Regions from separate parts of the Homo sapiens genome. Here region 1 is linked to region 2. Evidence: fine-mapped expression QTL. A gene starts in region 2. The other region holds a variant in brackets. All regions are shown on one strand. Distances are from middle to middle. Region 1 has its middle 27 kb from the start of LINC00402. Region 2 holds the start of KLF12 (KLF transcription factor 12).

Evidence for each region.
Region 1: its variant is fine-mapped to the expression of KLF12 in fibroblasts (GTEx, PIP above 0.99).

The regions. Positions count from the first base shown.
Region 1 is chr13:74,203,043-74,206,004 of GRCh38, reverse strand. It overlaps a transcript of KLF12 not described here. Among named protein-coding and RNA genes, the nearest start is that of LINC00402, 27 kb to the left of the region's middle. The variant C/T (reference allele first, on the strand shown) is at 1,190.
Region 2 is chr13:74,133,422-74,135,921 of GRCh38, reverse strand. It overlaps KLF12 (KLF transcription factor 12), which reads left to right and starts at 1,518. Exons shown (of 8, transcript NM_001400136.1): 1 at 1,518-1,950. RefSeq lists a silencer at 22-1,771.

The sequences.
Region 1 (2,962 bases), 70 kb before region 2:
TTGATATTTATAAACTTGCATCTCTTGTCATCTCTGTGTCAGACATTACCTCCAAGGCAACTGGAAGCCCAGTTTACCACATTTGGGAGCTGTTAATTACTGCTGACAGGGTTCATATTCATCAATTTTCTCTCCCTACTATAAAAATCTCTACAACCTGGAGGAGAGAGTTATCTTTTTGCAGCCCACCCTGAGCCTTCAACTTTGTTGTAGATTTCAAACTCAGCTAAGTGTGTCCTCAACCTCTCTACCCAGTAATGAGTTTCTGCTCCAGCTGCTTTGTTTCGGTTGACTCTTCAGTTTTCTTTTAAATAATATAAAGACAGCCTAGTCCTTCCTCTGTGTCTACGTCAGGGTCAAGAAAGTCAGGTGGCAGGCCAAAGGAAGTCAGTCATCAACTATATGTGGCTACCAAAGCTTTACGTGTCCATACAAATCCAAGATTGTGTTTGCTAAGTCAGAGTGAGCCAACATCAATTTTTAGATAATATTTTTCTTTACTCAATACACTTGAGTAGGAAGAAAGTCACACATGCACTTCAGTTTCTATGTGCCAAGAGGAGCCTCTCCCAAACCTCAAACTCCATCTTAGCATATCCTCAAAGCCTAGTGAGTCTCAGAGAAAAGATGCCAGTTGTCTTGGGAGAATAAGTTACTTTTCATATCACCCCAGATTTTGTCAGAAAGAACTTCATCTGACAATATTTCCTGGTGCTATAAAATGTTGCCATTTGTTTTATTATGAATTCACTAAGTTGGGTTAATTCAACAAAATGTATTTAGTGATTTCTCTTCTCCCCACGCTGAGCAAATTTGCTATCAGTCTATGTCCTTAGGGAATTTACCCTCTAGCTAACGTAGATGACCACTAGTGAAATAGTTTTTAGGCTATTCACAGAGCAAGCCACAAGCAAGAACCAAAAAAAATACATGGCAACCATGTCAGTGTTCACAGAAGTTCACTTTTTAAATATAACAATAAAGAGTAAATGGGAAAATAACTCTATGGTCATTTTCTGCTATCAGCATATGTCTAGTAATTTATTTTAGACTGGCTACTGGCTTCATAAAAAGCCCAACACTCAAAAGTCTTGAGATCTGACATTTGCAATAGTGGCAATAAACTAGAAAGAAGTTGCTAGGAAGATGCTATACAACCCTCGGTATAATAGCACAAAAATCCCAAATA[C/T]GCAGTGATGATGGTACAATCATCCACCAACCTCGAATTCCTGAAGTCCCTTCAGATGCCATGCAGAAACTGAGGTCTCTGAATCATTCAAGTAATAGCCGGGTTCATACATAAAATAGAATCTTCAACATGTTTTTAGATCTGAAATTTGCTTACAATTTAGAGAAGAAGGCAAGCCATTCTATGTATCTCTCAAAACTGCAATAAATCCTCCTCAAATAATTGGGCAAGACTCCTAAAAACCTAAATGATCTTCATAGAAAAGATTTTAGAGTTGACAGATTTCCAAACTTAAGGAAAAATAAATTGAGAAGAATAATTTTATAAGGGAACCTAGAGGATTTCTTACAGGTATTTTTGCATTTATTAACAAAGGTTTTTGGGATTAATAATTGTAAACAATGAGTCTAATGTATATTATTGGGGTGATGGTTACATCAAAAGCCCAAACTTTCCCATTACAAAATATATCCCTGTAACAAAACTGCACTTGTAACCCTTACATTTATACAAATTTGAAAAAAGAAAAAATTGCAAACATTTCAAAACCTTCCCTGGGCCAGGTACTTTGCACACATTATTTCCATTGTGCAACAATGCTAAGCAACATCCTCATCCTACAGATGAAGTTTAAGAACTTGTCCAAAGTCAGACACATAGTAAATAAAAAACTGGAATTTAAAAACCAGAGTTGTATCATTTCAAAGCCCATTCTACATTGGTGATGATGGTGGTGGTGATGGAAGAGAGGAAGGCACTGCAAAATCTCGACTTACTTCTGACAACATCTTTGTGCTTTTGTGGAGTTTCTAGCTTAAGTTTTCAAAAAACACAGATGTCTGTGTAGTATTTGTATCTTTTTTTAAGGTCTTTCTTCATCCAATCATTCAGGCTTTGCTTCTGAGTCTCCGCTTACATACTGTTCAAAACAGAGTCTTGGGGGACCACATATTTACAAAGCTGTCTTACAAATTGGCAAACTGCCTCCTATATTGGTCAATGGGAATGGCTGGGTGGTACTGTAGCTCTCTGTCTCTGTAACCTGAGCACTGGATCTGCATTTTCCTTGGCAGCTGTGTTTCCCTGACATAATTAATTTCTTGTGCCCTGTGGCTAGGGGAAGGACATTTTAAACCCTCTTTGCCAAGAAGAGTCACTTCATGCCAACCTCCACCAAGTTCAGTACAGATTTTCACATTGCATAGCATCATAATGTGTCCTGCTTTTTCACCATGATACATCTCAATGGCAGCTGTAATTCATAAGCATTACCTTTTTTTGCCTTATCCTAGTAGCCAGATTGTCTTAGATTCCATTAAGAATCATAGTGGACCATAATAGTCTTATTTAAAAAATTTATGAAGGTATTGATGCTTGATTTTTTACTCTTCATGTAATTAATTTACAAATCTGATGAGATGAAATATCTCTACAAAGGAATAGTGTTCCCTCCAAAGCTCAATTTGCCATCATCTTCTTGCATCTAGCCTAATTCCAGGTTAGAGAAAGCAGAGGTTTTCAAGCAACAGATTGAGATCTGCAATCTATGTGTAATGACACCCAAGTCTAATCTCCAGCCAGATCACTACCCTCAGCTCCAGATTTGTAGCAGCATTTGCAAAGAGATATCATCTCTTAGATGCCCCACACATTCTTCAAACTAAATATGCCCAGATATAAATTCCAAAACTAATTGCCTCTTTTATATCTCTTGACTTTCTTAATGGAACCCCATCTAACCCATTCATCCAAGCCAGAAAACTGAGAGTTTAA
Region 2 (2,500 bases):
AGTGGCTGGAAACCGCCACACCGATGGGGAGCCCAGCTGGCCCTGGCTCACATTCGTGCCTTCGTTCTCATTTCCTGTTTCTCGGCCTCTCCCTTGTTTCTCTTCCCACCCCACTCCACGCCACAGTACAGCAAAGCTTTCTCTCTGCACACAAACTTCCCCTTCCCGGCCTTCCCACAGCCCTGGCGATTTCCCACGCGGGGCGGGCCGGGCCGGGGGCGCGGGGCAGGGGAATACTGTCGTGCCCGGAGCGCCGCGCTCACCTAGGATGGTGAGGAGGCGGGCCCACAGCCTCCCGCCTCCGTCCGCCGCGCGCCCCGCCCGCCCGGCCGCTTCCGCCCCGTCTGCTCCCCGCCCCCGCCGACCCTCCGGCTCGGCGCTGACCCCGCGCCCTCCGAGCCGCCGCGGGAACTGCAGGGCCGCCCGGCCGCCTCCTCCCTCTCCCGCCCCACAATCCCGCGGATCCGCTCCCCGGGGCGCGGAGGCGGGGAGGGAGGGGCTGCCGGGGAGAGCGTCAAGGACTCGGCTCCGGGCCGTCCGCTTCTTGGGGCTCCGCTCTGGGCGTGGGGCAGTGGAGCTGGACTCCCTTCCCCGCCGCCCCCGGGCCCCGCGGGGGTCTGCAGATCCCGCTTCCTCTGCCCCAGTCCTCCAAGTTTGCGTGCTTTCCCACAGAACTGGCGCAGGCAGGGGCCCCTTCGCTGGGGTGGCGAGGCCAGGCGCGCATCTCCGCCTCGCCCCCATTCATCCCGCCAAGGTGAAGCGCAGGGAAAAGGGGCGCCCCCGCTTCGCCCGCAACGTGCGTCGCTCCGGAACCCAAACAATGACTCCCCTGCCTGCCGCGCCCGGCCCTCCGCCCGCCCCACCGGCGCGCGGGGGGCACCGCCCGCGGGGCTGCCCCTGCCTGACCCCATTGTTGCCCGGCGCGGGCGATGCCCGGCGCCCAGGGGCGGTCCCCGCGAGCTGCCCCACAGTCCCGGCCGGCTCCGCCCACACCTTTCCAAGTTCGCTGGCGGGCGAGCCGCGGGGACGACCCGGGCGACAGCCCCCTCCCTCCACTGCGCGCCCCCACCCGGGCGGGTGCGGCGAGGGGTGGGGGCCCAAGCGGGCTGCACGCTTTTTGGGTCCCCGAATTCTCCTAAGCCTGTCTGGCGCGCTCTGACACAAAAGAGGAGACTTTCTCGCGGCTCGGCGCGAGTCCTTGCCCAGCGAGTTGCTCTCCAGGGGTCCCTCCCGCCGCAAGCCCCCGCGGGCCCCCTCGGCCGACGACTCCCCGAGCTCCCAGGGCCATGTGTGGGTTATTTGGGGTGCCGCAGCAAAGTGGTGCAGGTGAAAGGGAAGCGCTGCCGAGGCCCGGGGCCGGAGGGCGGGGGCAGGGGTGGGGCGGGGTGGGGCGGGGTGGAGGCGCCGCGGACCCAGCCCGGCGGTCCGGGCGGGGAGGCGAGGGCCGGGCAGTGGGTGTTGCCTTCTACCTCTGCGAGCGGGGAGGGGTTAGTTTCCCACAGGGGATTTCAACCATCACACTCAGAGCCCGCCTCCTAATCCTCGGGCGGAGCGGCTCGGGGGCCCCATTTTATGGCAATAAAGCGACTTAGCGCCTGCTGAGCGAGCCCCTCCCCGCCGCCGCCCCCGCCCTCGGCCCCACCCCGGGGCTCGCCGGCAGCGGCGGGGCTTTGTTTCTGGGGAGGAGGACCCGGAGCTCTTTTGTTTGGGGGTTTCTTGTTTTCGGCCCCCCCCCTCACAGCACCCCACCCCACCCCACCCCAAGCGCCTCTCCGGTTTCCTGAGCTGCGGGCTGCGAGGGAGGAGAAGCGGCGTCCTGCAACCCCCTCGGCTGGGCCCCGGGGTAATTCGATGCGGGCCTGGCGAGGCTCCCCACACTAGACCGGGGCTCGCAACTCGGCAGCCTCCACCCACCGGCCCACCCTACATTTAGCGCATCATGTGATCCGGGTAAGTCATTTGCAAGTACAACAGTTCCCCGGGTTGCCCCCCATTCATTTCCTGAGAACTGCAGAGAGCCGCTGAGAGGCTCTGCGTGTGCGTGTGCGCGGGTGACGCCGTGTGTGTGCGAGTGTGTGTGTGTGTGTGCGCGCGCGCGTGTGAGAGAGAGAAAGGGAGAGAGAGAGGGGGACTCTGTGTGAGGGAAAGAAAACAATTTCTCCTGCTCTGCAGCTTCTGTTCAGGTCTGTGCCGATTCCGTTTCTTATCAAAATAAACAACCCCCTCCTCTTTTTTTTTTTTTTTTGCCATCCCAAATCAGACCGTATTCTCTTAACGTGTTTTATTTTCCTTCTGTCATCTGCTCAAGTTAAATCATTTTGGTTGGTCTGTGTTCTTAAAGGGGGAAAGTGCTGGGAAGCGGGAGGGGGCCGGGGAAGGGCGATGCTGTTGCAAAGCAAGTAGCGTCGGTCGGATTCGTGGAGAAGAAAGAAGGAGGTTTCTTCCCCACCTCCCCTAATTTTTTTTTTCCAGAAGAAGTTATCAAGTAACGTGAATTAAG